Linked DNA regions of Homo sapiens. The protein of the gene in region 1 purifies or fractionates together with the protein of each later gene. This does not show direct contact. Each region holds a gene or a part of one and is shown in the gene's direction. Other genes may lie near its edges.

What was found. The genes of interacting proteins can lie anywhere in the genome.
Region 2: the proteins of KCMF1 (region 1) and MRS2 purify together in Homo sapiens (affinity purification with mass spectrometry; 3 studies listed by BioGRID and IntAct, with this or other methods). This does not show direct contact.
Region 3: the proteins of KCMF1 (region 1) and PNO1 fractionate together in Homo sapiens (co-fractionation; one large-scale study listed by BioGRID). This does not show direct contact.
Region 4: the proteins of KCMF1 (region 1) and SBF1 purify together in Homo sapiens (co-immunoprecipitation; one large-scale study listed by IntAct). This does not show direct contact.

The regions. Positions count from the first base shown.
Region 1 is NC_000002.12:85,025,687-85,031,267, forward strand, and holds part of KCMF1 (E3 ubiquitin-protein ligase KCMF1), read left to right. Parts: intron 1-2,202; coding exon 2,203-2,370; intron 2,371-5,581. UniProt on the Homo sapiens protein: E3 ubiquitin-protein ligase which accepts ubiquitin from an E2 ubiquitin-conjugating enzyme and then transfers it to targeted substrates, promoting their degradation by the proteasome.
Region 2 is NC_000006.12:24,412,936-24,416,435, forward strand, and holds part of MRS2 (magnesium transporter MRS2 homolog, mitochondrial isoform b precursor), read left to right. Parts: intron 1-2,080; exon of another isoform or gene 2,081-2,097; coding exon 2,098-2,228; intron 2,229-3,461; coding exon 3,462-3,500. UniProt on the Homo sapiens protein: Magnesium transporter that mediates the influx of magnesium into the mitochondrial matrix and regulates magnesium metabolism. Also permeable to calcium, sodium and potassium ions.
Region 3 is NC_000002.12:68,167,888-68,171,387, forward strand, and holds part of PNO1 (RNA-binding protein PNO1), read left to right. Parts: intron 1-3,500. UniProt on the Homo sapiens protein: Part of the small subunit (SSU) processome, first precursor of the small eukaryotic ribosomal subunit.
Region 4 is NC_000022.11:50,447,768-50,451,035, reverse strand, and holds part of SBF1 (myotubularin-related protein 5), read left to right. Parts: intron 1-2,385; coding exon 2,386-2,493; intron 2,494-2,591; coding exon 2,592-2,803; intron 2,804-3,268. UniProt on the Homo sapiens protein: Acts as an adapter for the phosphatase MTMR2 to regulate MTMR2 catalytic activity and subcellular location. Promotes the exchange of GDP to GTP, converting inactive GDP-bound Rab proteins into their active GTP-bound form.

The DNA.
Region 1 (5,581 bases):
CAACCTCTGCCTCCTGGGTTCAAGTGATTCTCTTCCCTCAGCCACCCGAGTAGCTGAGATTACAGGCACACACCACCATGCCTCACTAATTTTTTTGTAATAAATGACATATTTTTAATAATATGTTTTTCTGTCTGTTTTGCAGTGAAGAAATACAATCAGTACTTTATTTAGGAGGTCTCTATCTAACAGCTTTGCTTACTGCTTCTAATAACTTAGCTGTATTTGGGTTTTCAGCATAAACAAGCAGATCACATGTGAATAAAACTATGAAACCCACCTACAGAATTTTAAATTTTAACTTTTTTAAAAATATTTTTTAAAGACAGAGTCTCACTCTGTCGCCTAGGCTGGAGTGCAGTGGCATGATCTCGGCTCACTGCAACCTCCGTCTCCTGAGTTCAAGCCATTCTTCTGCTTCAGCCTCCCAAGTAGCTGAGATTACAGGCGCCCACCACCACGCCCGGCTAATTTTTGTATGTTTAGTAGAGATGGGGTTTCACCAGGTTGGTCAGGGTGGTCTTGAACTCCTGACCTCAGGTGATCCGCCCACCTCAGTCTCCCAAAGTGCTGAGATTACAGGCGTGAGCCACTGCGCCTGGCATATTTTAACTTTTTTTTTTTTAAACAAATACAAATGAGATCTCTCTATGTTGCCTTGGCTGGTCTTGAACTCCTGGCCTCAAGCAGCCCTCTTGTCTTAGCCTCCCAAAGTGTTGGAATTACAGGTGTGAGCTATGGCACCCAGCCCTGTTCAAGCTTCTTTCTTTCCTTTATTATTATTATTATTATTATTATTATTATTATTATTTTTATTTTTTCCAGACAGGGTCTTGTTCTGTTCCCAAGCTGGAGTGCAGTAGTTTGATCATGGTCACTGCAGCTTCGAGCTCCTGGGCTCAAGCATTCCTCCCACCTCAACCTTCCAAGTAGCTAAGGCTACAGGCACAGGCCACAATGCCCAGCTAATTTTTAAATTTTTTTGTAGACAGGATCTCTCTATGTTGCCCAGGCTGGTCTTGAACTCCTGGCCTCAAGCCATCCCCCTGCCTCGCCTTGCCAAAGTGCTTGGGATTATAGGTGTTAGCCACCACACCCAGTTATTTCTTTTAACAGGTCAAGAATTATTTGATGCCCCAATTCTGATATGAACTCATGACTGATTCTGCTGCTCCTGCTAGTTCTTTCTGATGGTGCTTTGTTTTTTTGTGTGTATTTTATGGTTTAAATTATGAACTTATTCTTTGGATGTTTATATATGCCAGATGCTTGGTATCAATTCTAATTTAAGACCACTTAAAATTCTTGACCCAAGGTCTTTGGAACCATTTGATAGAATTTGGGCTATAAACCCATGAGGACTGGTTTGTGGTTATGGCTTTTTGTGTTATTTTGTGCCCCTAGGGCAGGGGGCTTTCACTGGGGTAATTTTTGTAATCCCCTAGGGAGGATTTCTAGCCTACCCATGCATTGAGAGTATATTAGGGTCTTGGTTTTATGAGGAATCTTCTGTTAATTATCCCACCTTCACTAGGCCTTTGTCCAATAATGCTGTGGACCTTAAGCTTAGATTTTTACCTGCTTGGGCAAATACCCTCATGGTGAAAAGCCTTCTTTAGTGCTTCCAGTCACCAGTTCCTCTTCGTCTTGGTTTTTACCTTCTTGCTGGCTTATCAAGGCTTTTTTTTTTTTTTTTTTTTTTTTTTTTGAGACAAAGCCTCACTCTGTTGTGAGGCTGGAGTGCAGTGGCGCGATCTCAGCTCACTGCAACCCTACCTCCTGGGTTTAAGCAATTCTCATGCCTCAGCCTCCCAAGTAGTTGGGATTACAGGTGCCAGCCACCACGCCCAGCTAATTTTTGCATTTTTAGTAGAGACGGGGTTTCAACATGTTGACCAGGCTGGTCTTGGACTACTGACCTCAAGTGATCCACCCGCCTCGACCCCCGCAAAGTGCTCAGATTACAGGCGTGAGCCACTGCACCCAGCCTGTATCAGTCATTTTAAATTATTTTCATGTGGAGTATAAATCAGAGTAATGAATCCAGCACATGGCTAAAACTTCCCGTATCATTTTACTAAGTCATTTCTAGTCATTTTGGAAAGGACATATGAGGTTAAATGAGCACCTGAAACATTCATAAAAATGAAATCAAGAGTGGCCTTTACAACTGGTAACTAAAGATATTTCTTTTTTTTATAGGTGTCAGCTGTGATGCATGTTTAAAAGGAAATTTTCGAGGTCGCAGATATAAGTGTTTAATTTGCTACGATTACGATCTTTGTGCATCTTGTTATGAAAGTGGTGCAACAACAACAAGGCATACAACTGACCACCCAATGCAGTGCATATTAACAAGGGTAGATTTTGGTAAGTAATTAAAAATTTAATGAATTACATCATTTAGAATTTTATGTACGTTGAAGAAGTAAAGGCAAAGTGTTCTAAAACTCCCCAGCAGCATACCATAAGCCCCAAATTCATTAAACATGAAATAAATCTTACTTTTTTTTGAGACGGAGTTTCGCTCTTGTTGCCCAGGCTGGAGTGCAATGGCGCGATCTTGGCTCACTGCAACCTCCACCTCCCTGGTTCAAGCAATTCCCCTGCCTCAGCCACCCGAGTAGCTGGGATTACAGGTGCACACCACCACGCCTGGCTAATTTTTTTGTATTTTTAGTAGAGACAGGGTTTCACCACGTTGGCCAGACTGGTCTCGAACTCCTGACCTCAGTCAATCTGCCCGACTCAGCCGCCCAAAGTGCTGGGATTATAGGCGTGAGCCACTGTGCCTGGCTTTTTTTTTTTTTTTTTTTTTTTTTTTGAGGAGTCTTACCCTGTCGCCTAGGCTGGAGTGCAATGTCGTGATCTCAGCTCGCTGCAACCTCCACCCCCCAGGTTCAAGCGATTCTCCTGCCTCAGCCTCCCAAGGAGCTGGGATTACAGGCGTGCACCACCATGCCCGGCTGATTTTTTGTATCTTTAGTAGAGATAGGGTTTCACCATGTTAACCAGGCTGGTCTTGAACTCCTAACCTAATGATACACCTGCCTCGGCCTCCAAAGTGCTGGGATTACAGGCGTAAGCCACCGCGCCCGGCCTTACTTTTTACGTACTAAGTAATTCTGTCTGTTCATCTTAATCATAGTTTACTTGTTTAAAAAAACCATTCAGAAATATACACAACTGACAAGGAATGAAATAGAAGAGTGCTTCAGTAAAGAAGAAATATGCTCTGTCTTTTGTTCGTGCTATTAACACACAAATAATAGCTTTATTTTATTTTATTTTTTATTTTTTTAAGACAGAGTCTCACTCTGTCGCCCACGCTGGAATGCAGTGGCCGGATTTCGGCTCACTGCAACATCTGCCTCCTGGCTTCAAGCAATTCTCGTGCCTCAGCCTCTTGAGTAGCTGAGACTACAGGTGTGTGCCACCTTGCCCAGCTAATTTTTTTGTATTTTTAGTAGAGATGAAGTTTCACTATGTTGGCCAGGCTGGTCTTGACCTCAAGTTATCCACCTGCCTTCGCCTCCCAAAGTGCTGGGATTACAGACGTGAGCCACCATGCCCAGCAATAATAGCTTTTGTAGTGACCAGAAAACAGATTGTTGGCTGGTTATGGTGGCTAACGCCTGTAATCCCAGCCCTTTGGGAGGCTTAAGATGGTCAGATCACTTGAGCCCAGGAGTTTGAGATGAGCCTGGGCAACATGGCAAAAACCCTGTCTCTGCATCCACCCCCGAAAAATACAATAAATTAGCTGGATGTGGTGGCGCACATGCATCTGTAGCCCTAGCTACTTGGGAGGCTGAGATGGGAGGATCACTTGAGCCCAGGAGGTCAAGTGTGCAGTGAACCCTGATTGTGCCACTACATTCCGGCCTGGCCAACAAAGCAAGACGCTATCTCAAAAAAAAAAAAAGGCAGATTGTTTCTACAGTTGATTAGAAGACATTGTAAGAAAATATATAAATGTTTCATGCTATAATTTTTTTTTTTTTTTTTTTTGAGACAAGAGTTTCACTCTTGTCGCCTAGGCTGGAGTGCAATGGCGCCATCTCAGCTCACTGCAACCTCCACCTCCTGGGTTCAAGCGATTCTCCTGCCTCAGCCTCCTGAATAGCTGGGATTACAGGTGCCCGCCACCATGCCCAGAAAATTTTTTTTGTATTTTTAATAGAGACAGGGTTTCACCATGTTGGCCAGGCTGGTCTTGAACTCCTAATCTTAGGTGATCCACTTGCGGGCCTCCCAGAGTGCTGAGATTACAGACATGAGCCACCACGCCTGGCTTCGTGCTATAATTTCTTACCTAGCCCACACTTTTTGTCCTTTTTATTTCAGCCATCCTAGTAGGTGTAAAGTAGTATCTCAGGTGGTTTTGATTTATATTTCTCTGAAATATAAATTATGTTGAGCATCTTTTCTTGTGCTTATGGGCCATTTGTATATCTACTTTGAAGAAATACCTTGATCCTTTGCCCATTTTTTAATTGGATAATGTGTCTTTGTTATTGAATTGTAATAGTTTTTTATTCCTTATGTAAGTTTTTTTATCTGATAGATGATTTGCAAAAATTTTCTCCCATTCTGTGGGTTGTGTTTTCACTTTCTTGGTGGTGTGCTTTGAAGCACAAAACTTCTAATTCTGATAATGTCCCGTTTATGTATTTTTTCATTTGTTGTGCATTTGATGCTGTATCTAGAAAATCACTGCCTAATTCAAAGTCACGAAGATTTAAACTTGTGTGTTCTTCTAAGAGTTTTATAGTTTTAGCTCTTACATTTAGATATTTGACCCATTTAGAATTAATTTTTATATGTGGAATGAGGTAAAGGGCCAACTTTATTCTTTTGCATGTGAGTATTCAGTTGTCCCAGTATCTTTTGTTGGAAAGACTATTCTTTACCCAATGCATTGTCTTGGCACTCTTGTTAAAAATAGGTTGACTATAAATGAGGGTTTATTTCTAGACTCTCAGTCTATTCACATTGATCTATATGCCTGGTGTTTTTGTTTGTTTTTTGACACAGAGTCTCACTTTCACCCAGGCTGGAGTGCAGTGGTGCGATCTTGGCTCACTGCAGCCTCCGCTTCCCAGGCTCAAGCAATCCTCCACCCTCAGCCTTCCAAGTAATTGGGATCACAGGTGGAAGCCACCACGCCTAGCTGATTTTTAAATTTTTTGTGGAGATGGGGTTTTTCCACATTGCCCAAACTGGTATCAAACTCCTGAGCTCAAAGTGATCTGCCTGCCTCAGCCTCCCAAAGTGCTGAGATTGCAGGCGTGAGCCACCATGCCAAGCCTACATGTCTGTCTTTATGCCAGTACTACACTGTCTTGATTTCTGTAGCTTCATAGTAAGCTTTGAAATCAAGAAGAGTGAGTCTTCCAACTTTGTTCTTTTTCAATATTATTTTGGGTATTCTGTGTCCGTTTCATTTCTGTATTTTAGATTCAGCTTGTCAGTTTCTGCAAAGAAGCCAACTAGGATTTTGAATGGAATTATGTCGAATCGGTAGATTAGTTTGGAGAGTATTGCCATCTTAATAATATTAAATCTGCTGATACATGAA
Region 2 (3,500 bases), on another chromosome or scaffold:
CTAACCAGAGTGGGAGGAGGAGAGAGGGTAGAGAGGACATGAGGTGCATTGGGTTGGGTGAACCTGGCACACTTTTCTTTTGTCTGCCTTGCTCTGAAAGAATAGATGGCTACACTTCCTGCTTGGGGTAATTAATGAGCACCAGCTAGCACCAGCCAGTGAGATGATAAGTAGTGGGAGCCCAGTTACCAAGCAGGGGGAAAGCAGAAGAGAGAAAGAAGATGTAAACAGTGGTAAGTCATGGGCTCCACAGGCTGGGTAAGCTCTCAGGAGCTCATGCTGTTAGGAGAAAGACAGGGATCTTAAAGGGAGCAGGAGGGGAAGGAGAGAGGCTAGGCTGGCATGGGTCTCCGGCCTAGAGATTGGCTGTGGGGAGAATAGAGAGGGAGTTCAGGATGTCTGCTGGGATACACATTCTTCTTCCTTTAAATGGGGTCCCAGGAAGATTTCCTTACGAAACAACACTACATAGAAGCAAGACCAGCCACCTCTCAAAAGGGATAAGTTTTCGAACAAGGGAAAGCTCCCCAAACCCACCTAAGGGACCAAGACATACCATGAGTAGATATGCCTCACAAATACCCTATCTGTGACCCTCAGCAGCCTCCCCAACCACTACAAAAGTCCACACCTTGCTGAGCAGAGGGTTTGATATCTCTTAGATTAAAAGATGTGGTCTGCCTATTTGGCTGTCCAGTCTTCCCTCCCACCCAAGGACTTCTTAACCCGGAAGCAGTTCCTCTGGAGACGAAATAAACAACATGTCTGCAGAGGCACTGTGACTCTGGACTTGTTTCCAAATAAAAAAATCTGTTTCACAGTAATTGTGCTTCTGAGATAAAGACTATATGCTGTAATTTACGTCATCAGTTTTACCGCTTGATTTAGTTAGTATATGCTATTTGCCAACTGGCATGGAAGTGTTTCAGTATTTTAACAACTATATAGCAGGATTAGTGCATACCTGCCGAATATCAAATATCAAACCATACTTGTGTTAACCTAAATAGTCTATTTTTGACTTTACTCTGATATGTTTATGTTTTAAAGCTCAAGTTTTTATTTTCAAAGAGCTTTGTAGGAATTTTGAACCATATTCTGTTTACAGAGAACACAGGTATTACTGAAAGCTTGTGTTTTAATAATAGCAGATTTTATTTTACTTGATCCCTCATTACTTCATAATGAATGTCTATAGGAGAAAGACTTTTTTTTTTAAATTTTTTTAGTATTTATTGATCATTCTTGGGTGTTTCTCGGAGAGGGGGATTTGGCAGGGTCATAGGACAATAGTGGAGGGAAGGTCAGCAGATAAACATGTGAACAAGGGTCTCTGGTTTTCCTAGGAAGAGGACCCTGCCGCCTTCCGCAGTGTTTGTGTCCCTGGGTACTTGAGATTAGGGAGTGGTGATGACTCTTAACGAGCATGCTGCCTTCAAGCATCTGTTTAACAAAGCACATCTTGCACCGCCCTTAATCCATTTAACCCTGAGTGGACACAGCACATGTTTCAGAGAGCACAGGGTTGGGGGTAAGGTTATAGATTAACAGCATCCCAAGGCAGAAGAATTTTTCTTAGTACAGAACAAAATGGAGTCTCCTATGTCTACTTCTTTCTACACAGACACAGTAACAATCTGATCTCTCTTTCTTTTCTCCACATTTCCCCCTTTTCTATTCGACAAAACCGCCATCATCATCGTGGCCCGTTCTCAATGAGCTGTTGGGTACACCTCCCAGACGGGGTGGCGGCTGGGCAGAGGGGCTCATCACTTCCCAGACGGGGCGGCCGGGCAGAGGTGCCCCTCACCTCCCGGACGGGGCGGCTGGCCGGGCGGGAGGAGAAAGACTCTTACGAGAGTTAGCTCCTTGTCAACCAAATCTGTGCCTAAAGATAACATCATACATAGTTCTTTGAACCCAGAGGATCTAGTTTTTGAATCATCTGGAATAGGCATTCTAGAATTATCTATGTTCTGAAATGTTACCAGCATTTCAAGCTACTACAGATTTCTGTATTTAATCAGAGGATTCACTGATCCTGAATATTCTAAAAAGATTGTTTTAATTCTTATGAAAGGTCATGTTGTTATCTAGATCAACACCCTTCAGGGGAAACTTAGCATTTTGCAGCCACTGATCCTTGAGACCTTGGATGCTTTGGTGGACCCCAAACATTCTTCTGTAGACAGAAGCAAACTGCACATTTTACTACAGAATGGCAAAAGGTAAATATGGATGATGTATCACATTGGGAGTTGGAGACAAATATCTTAAAATCAATTATTAACATTTTGTTTCATAACTTTTTTTAAAGTATGAAAGTAGCCTAGGTGGGAAGTTGAGCTAAAAGGGGCACACAATCTACTGTTTGTTGAAAAGATACTTTGCATGAAATGTCATGTAAGGCTCTTTTCCGTATGTGATCTCATCTCATCACCCATTCAATAGTTGATATTGTCTTCATTTTGAAGATGAGAAAATTGAGGTTTGAGTAACTTGCCTAAATTTATATGGCTAGTAAATGGCAGATCTAAATCCAAATTCAAAGTCCATGTTGTTCTTTTTCTTTAAAATCATAATGCATTCCAGAATTTAATAACAATATTATATATGTATCATAAATAGAATAAACATGCTCTCAGGAGTTATACTCCCGAAATCCCTTCAAGAATTAACATTTAAAATTCCTGAATCAGTAGTTTCTTATCCAAAAATGTTGGAGTGTTTTTATCAGTTAAGAGTAACTAGTCTGTTCTATATTATCACTGCCATGTTGATTAATAAAATTCCCAAACCAAAAATCTTAAATTCACAAGCGATTTATGTTTCTGAGATAAGTAATGTATGATGAAATTTATATCACTGATAATTTTACCAATTAATTTAGATCTGGTTTGGGTTTTTTGTGGGTGTTTTTGAGACAGGGTTTCACTCCGTTGCCCAGGCTGGAGTGCAGTGGTGCAGTCTCAGCTCACTGCAGCCTTGGTTTGGGTTTTTTGTGGGTGTTTTTGAGACGGGGTTTCACTCCGTTGCCCAGGCTGGAGTGCAGTGGTGCAGTCTCAGCTCACTGCAGCCTTAACCTTCAGCAATCCTCCCACCTCCACCACCCAAGTAGCTGGGACTGCAGGCACATGCCACCATGCCCAGCTAATTTTCTAAATTTTTTTGTAGAGACAAGATCTCACTGTTGTCCAGGAGGGTCTCAAACTCCTGAGCTCAAGCAATCCTCCTGCCTTGGCCTCCTAAAGTGCTAGGATTACAGGCGTGACACCATGCCTGGCCAAATTGATTCTTAATTTGCCTGGTAAATACTCAACTTTTTTTTTTTTTTTAAATAAGTCATTGTTTAGCATGAATGTATAAGATAATATATTTGATAAGATACTCTAAAAACACTATTATGAAATGTTCTTATAAGTTTATTCTATTGATCATTTTTGTGTATCTATTTCTTATAGTCTATCAGAGTTAGAAACAGATATTAAAATTTTCAAAGA
Region 3 (3,500 bases), about 17 Mb from region 1:
ATTTTTTTCTCCATCATATTAGACTCTATAGATGTGTCTTTCTTAGAACAATCCTGCACCCACATAAAAGCTGCATTTCCAATTTGAGATTGTCAAGAAAAGAATCACAAGATCTATAAATTTGGAGAGGAAACTTTATTTCTTAGAAAGGGTTGCAGTCTGCAGGGTGGCCATTCTGACAGGCTGGAAAGTATAGCCTTCAGCAGAGACCAAAAGCAGGCACTCTGAAGGAGGAAAGGATGAGACAGGAATTTATGCTGAATGCGTTGGCCAAGTATACTTATTTAACAGGTTATAGGAGGAGCTCTGAATATAAGAGGGGTCCTAATGCTTGTATACCGAGTAAATGTACAACCCCTGGTCGCTTTGGGGTGGAGACTTAACATTTAAAATACCTGACAATTAGATCCTGTATGTTACAAGATGAAATAGGGACAGGGACATGACAACTGAATGCACTGCCTCTGGAAGCTGGTAGTACCAGTCCATGGTCAGTGATCTCTTATCAGGAGATGTTACTGGGATCAGTCTCTTGTCCAATCAAAGCTGTAGTTACTGTTTGTGGAACAGAGTGTGGGAAGAGGGAAGCTGGGGTCAATCTGTATCTAGCTGTTGGTGAGCTGTAATTGTTTTAATATTGTTTATCACAAGGCCAGTGCTTGTTAAGCTGCTAGAGAAAAAAAAATATCCTGTGGCAATTAGAATGTCATTTACTCTTTAAGTGTAGGGTGTATGACTTAACCCTTGCCCAGGTGGTCTTAGGTCTTGTTTACAATTTGATATCTTATTGCCACAGTCTGTTCTGTCTTGCCTGGGCGCCTAGGGGCTTTATTTTTATTTTATAAGATAAAGGGGTATTTGGCAAAACTGCAGGTGTATTCATATCTGCTGTTATAGCTGCAGTGACAGCTTCATGAATTTCCTTTTCTTTTTTTTACAATGGTCCTATGGTATAGTCATTTATCTTGAAGTGGTGGGCAACTGCAACTGCAGGCCTCAGTCAACAGTACCTATCAAGCAATTCAGCTTTTTTCTTTTTTTTTTTTTTTTTTTTTTTTTGAGATGGAGTCTCCCTCTATCGCCAAGGCTGAAGTGCAGTGGTGCAATCTCGGCTCACTGCAACCTCCACCTCCCGGGTTCAATGGATTCTCCTGCCTCAGCCTCCTGAGTAGCTGCAACTATAGGCATTTGCCACCATGCCCAGCTAATTTTTTTGTATTTTTAGTAGAGATGGGGTTTCACCGTGTTAGGCAGGATGGTCTCAATCTCGTGACCTCGCAGTCCACCCGCCTCGGGCTCCCAAAGTGCTGGGATTACAGGTGTGAGCCACTGCGCCTGGCCAGTTCAGCTTTTTCTTGTACTGTCATGACTTTTCTGTGCTGCTTTGGAGCACTCCCAACATCACTAGTGGCACTTTATGTGGGACCCACGTTGGGTGGGTCCTATGGTCCCAAAGCTTACAATATTGCACTAAGATTAAAAATAGGCAAGAACTGCGAGAAATCACTTTCTACTGTGATAGACAGTTTATTGGAGAGTCAAAACTGCTTATGGGAGATAATCAGCATCACATGTGATCAGCATCACATGGCATTCTAAGTGGATACTTGCAACACCTGAGCTCACCACAAGAGCAATAGGTGGTGGCTGTGAAGTTGTCGTACAGTATGCACTACAGTTAATTTTATGGAGTTATGATTTAATACTGCATCTTTGCATTTGTTTCCATTTCTCTTGACTACAAATGGCATCATATATGGCTTGTGTTTGTGTGCGTAAGTTTTAATTTTAACTTTTTATAATAGATTTGTGTATATTTTACGGTAGTAAATAAGATAGACTAGTACCTACATACAGTTTATGCATTCATGACGTAGCTTTTTCTTAATTTTTTTGACATTTCTACGATACTTAGCTCCTCTCTGGGTTTTTTCACATCTCCAAAATATCTTCCAGTATATGTGTTGAAAAAAATTTGTGTGTAACTGGACCTGTGCAGTTCAAACCTATTATTCAAAAGTCAGCTGTATTACATCTTGTTTATCCAGTCACAGTAGATGGACTTTTGGGTTGTTTTCAGTTTGTGGCTATGAGAATAATGTTGCTACTGAATTACTTATATCTTTTGTGTTTTCTTACAAACTGAATTACAGACTACTTGAAATTAAGAGATGTACTATCTCTTGCTTTTGCTGTAGACAGGCTAGTTGGAAATCCACGTTTAACAGTTTATATTAATTATAATAAAGCTGTTAGATGGGCTGTTGTGTACCTATAAAAGTTATTTTTGATGAGTTGCCAATAACCTGGCAAAATACAGTAAGTATAATGTGAGCCAGATAGAAAACTAAAAACAATTGGTTCCAGGTATGTTTAATACAGCAGATGGGAAATGATGTTGCCTCTGTGTCTTGAAGCCTCCATTCCTTTCCAACTATTGCCCCATTACTTTGGTTCTTTGTGCAGCAAAACTACTCCCATCTGTTCTTGTTGTCTTTATTTCCTCATCTGTCATGCTCTGTTTTAAATAATTTTAATCAAAGTTAAACATACACATAGTTTTAAAAAGCCAAATATTGGCCGGGCGTGATGGCTCACACCTGTAATCCCAGCACTTTGGGAGGCCGAGGCGGGCGGATCACAATGTCAGGAGATCGAGACCATCCTGGCTAACACGGTGAAACCCCGTCTCTACTAAAAATACAAAAAAATTAGTCGGGCGTGGTGGTGGGCACCTGTAGTCCCAGTTACTTGGGAGGCTGAGGCAGGAGAATGGCGAGAATCCGAGAGGCGGAGCTTGCAGTGAGCCGAGATTGCGCCACTGCACTCCAGCCTGGGGGACAGAGCAAGACTCCGTCTCAAAAAAAAAAAAAAAAAAAAAAGCCAAAAATTTCTACTGCCTACCTCCATTTCACCCTTTTCAGGGGAACCAATTTCAACTCTTTTAGCTTATCTTAAAAAATTATTTGTCTCTGTATTTCCAGATATTTTGTTCATATACAGCCTCTTATTTTTCAGATTCACTATTGACTTTCTACCATCAAAGATGAAGATTTAGCTGTCTTTCACCCCCTTACTTCCACTGCACACACTCAGCCTTTCTGTCACTCCGATTTATTCTTCTCTGTCCTCCTGATGGTCCCCTTGTGGTTTTTGTTAGATTCGTGTTCAGTATTACCTGAAAACAGAAATCAGTGCTCAGTGTACTTATAGCTGAGCCAGGTGAAATACTGTGACTGCCTTATCTTTCTTTTGCAGCATTGTTTTCACTTGAGGAAGTAACTCTTATGTGTCTATGTCCTTTCTTCATTTTCGTCGTACTAATTCAGTAAGAAGCTATACGTTGTCTGTATCTCCTCTTGATGTATTCGAATGCATCTAATATTTGAGAAATCTCTCCTGGAGATGTTCTGTTCCAAAAACGCCCCCATGCTTTCTGCGTGCATTCTGGCTGCACAGCCATCATCCTGGGTTCCCTGTCCCCTGCCTCTTGGAGTCTC
Region 4 (3,268 bases), on another chromosome or scaffold:
TTTAACGCTTTTTATTGTAGAGATTCCCCATCTGATAAACCATTATGTCCATCTTTTCTTTTAAATCTTGAAACATAACTTAAAAATATATATAAAGATGGGGTCTTGCCATGTTGCCCAAGCTGTTCTCACACTCCTTGGGTCAAGCGATTCTCCCTCCTCGGCCTCCCGAAGTGCTGGGCTTACAGGCGGGAGCCACTGTGCCCTGCCTGTGTTGTCTTTCTTTAAGCTTAGAGTCTTGGGTTTTATTCTCGCAGGTAGGTAATGAGCTTGTGCGTCAGCTTGGTCTGTTTGAAGCTTGTTTCTAAGCTTTGTTTGGGCAGCTCTCCAGCACCTCTAGAGAAGCTCCAGGGATAGAGCAGCCCAAGGCGTGTGGCCTCTCCAGGGCTTCAGTTGGAGTTTTGTGTCTTTGTGTCTTCGGTAAGGTCTTGCCACACTGGCTTTTTGGAAGTCCAGTATCTTTTAGCATTCCTCTAGAATTTGGGTTCAGCTCATAGTTTTGTTTTTTTTTTTTTGAGGCAGAGTCTCACTTTGTCTCCCAGGCTGGAGTGCAGTGGCGCACTCTCGGCTCACTGCAGCCTCCACTTCCCATGTTCAAGCAATTCTCCTGCCTCAGCCTCCCGAGTAGCTGGGATTACAGGTGCCCGCCACCATGCCCAGCTAATTTTTGTATTTTTAGTAGAGACAGGGTTTTGCCATGTTTACCAGGCTGGTCTTGAACTCCTGACCTCAGGTTATCCACCCGCATTGGCCTCCCAAAGTGCTGGGATTACAGGTGTGAGCCACTGCTGCCGGCGTCAGGTCATAGCTTCTTAGTAGCTGTTCTCTGCCAGGCCTTGTGACATCTTGCTTTGCACATGGCAGCCTAATTTGGCCAACGACTCAAGGAGGGCTCTGTCTAGATTTCTAGAGCCCCTTTGCTGTGGTGCTCCCTCCCCTCTGTGGGCTGCCCTGCAGACCCAGCTGCACTAGCGCCCCTGGACGTCCCGTCTCTGCCTCCTCGGCTCAGCAAGCTCCCGTGTGTTGCTCTGGCCCTGCCTCCCTGCACTGTGGCTGGGCAGAAAACAGGTGACTGTGGGGCCCATCTTATGTGGTCCCATGTCTTAGGCTCCTGTCTCTCAAGCTGCACTGCTTGTCTGACATCTGGAAACAACGGCTTCCCCTTCTTGTCCAGTTTCATCATTTGCATATGGAGGGAGGGCTGTTCAGACTAATTATCTGTCATGGCTGGAAGTTGACAGTTGGCCTCGTGTTTCTCTTTTGAAGTCAGCCGTCAGTTTTATTGTTGCTCTTTCAAAGAGAGCATGTCTTTTTTTCTTCTGGCAGGTTTTGGGACTTTTCTCTTTGTTTTTCAGCAGTTTTTCTGTCCCATTTTGGGGTGTGTGTGTGTGTGTGTGTGTGTGTGTGTGTTTGTGTGTTTTGAGACAGAATCTCACTTTGCCGCCCAGGCTGGAGGGCAGTGGTGTGATCTCGGCTCACTGCAACTTCCGCCCCCTGAGTTTAAGTGATTCTCCTGCCTCAGCTTCCTGAGTAGTTGGGATTACTGGTGCCTGCCACTGCGTCCGGCTAATTTTTGTATTTTTAGTAGAGTTGGGGTTTCACCATCTTGGCCAGGCTGGTCTTGAACTCCTGACCTCGTGATCCACCCGCCTCGGCCACCCAAAGTGCTGGGATTACAGGCGTGAGCCACCGCGCCTGGCCCTAAAATCACTCTCTTGAATTTACTGTATGTTCTAACTCCTGTTTCATTTCAGGGTCTATTTTAATGTTTTTCTCCATTTTTCTGCTGTTCTTTTATTGTAAGCTGGACATTGTGGACCCTGCAGTGTTGAAGATCAGTATTGTGTGGTCTTTTTTTTTTTTGAGAAGCAGTTTTGCTCTTGTTGCCCATGCTGGTGTGCAGTGGCGCGTTCTCGGCTCACCGCAACCTCCGCCTCCCAGGTTCAAGCGATTCTCCTACAGGCGTGCGCCACCATGCTGGGCTAACTTTTTGTATTTTTAGTAGAGATGCGGTTTCTCCATGTTTGTCAGGCTGGTCTCAAACTCCTGACCTCAGGTGATCGGCCTCCCAAAGTGCTGGGATTACAGGCGTGAGCCACCACGCCTGGCCGGGGTGTGTGTTTTTAACTTACCCTGTTGGGGTCTGTAGTGCTTCTTGATTATGTTGTTTGATGCCTCTGGTTAGTTTGGGAAATTTTTCAACTGTTGTCTCCGAATATTCATTTTGCATATTCCTTCCCTCCCTCTTGCCACCTCCCCCTGTGGCCAGTCACACACGCGTTAGGCCTTTCCGTTGTGTCTCTTTCCTGTGTTTTCCTTTTGTCTTTTCGTGCTCTAGTCTGGATATTTCCTTTTGAATAAACTTGCCATTAATTCTTCCCCCAGGAGCTGCAGAGGCTGGAGACAGAGTTGGGCCAACCCGCTGAGCGCTGGAAGGACACCTGGGACCGGGTGAAGGCTGCACAGCGCCTCGAGGGCCGGCCAGACGGCCGTGTGAGTGAGGGCCAGTGTGAGCGTCCACGGTGGGCGTGTTGCTGGGAGAAAGTGGAGTCTGTCCAGCCCTGACCCAAGTCCCAACCTCCTGTTCCCAGGGCACCCCTAGCTCCCTCCTTGTGTCCACCGCACCCCACCACCGTCGCTCGCTGGGTGTGTACCTGCAGGAGGGGCCCGTGGGCTCCACCCTGAGCCTCAGCCTGGACAGCGACCAGAGTAGTGGCTCAACCACATCCGGCTCCCGTCAGGCTGCCCGCCGCAGCACCAGCACCCTGTACAGCCAGTTCCAGACAGCAGAGAGTGAGAACAGGTATGAGGGCACCTCCCACTGCCACATGGACACCTCTGAGCTGGTGTTCTGGGGTCCCAGGCAGTCCTCTGGTGGGAGATTGCGGGTGCTTTTGAGGAGCTTGCTTAAGTATACACCACCACTGGGAGGGGTTTGGGGTGTCGAACTGGTGACCACAGCTGACCACAGCCTGCAGTGGCTGAGGGAGGAGTAGAGAGAGGGCAGTGGTGGGGCCCCCGTGAGTCTGGAGTCTGGCAGGATCCATCCCAGGCAGCTGCTGCCGTGGCTGCTTCTACAGATCTACCTGCCTGGCCATCCCTCTCCTCGTAAGGGCGCCTGCCCTGTGTAGGGGGCTGCTTTCCCAAGACCCTGAGGCTCTGGTGTGGGGATGCTCCCTGGAGTCTGGAGGGTGTGAGGCGCCCTTCACTGTCTCCTTTCTGGGCGTCGTCTTCTTGGGCCTGCAGCCCCCCATCAAAGGCTTCTTTG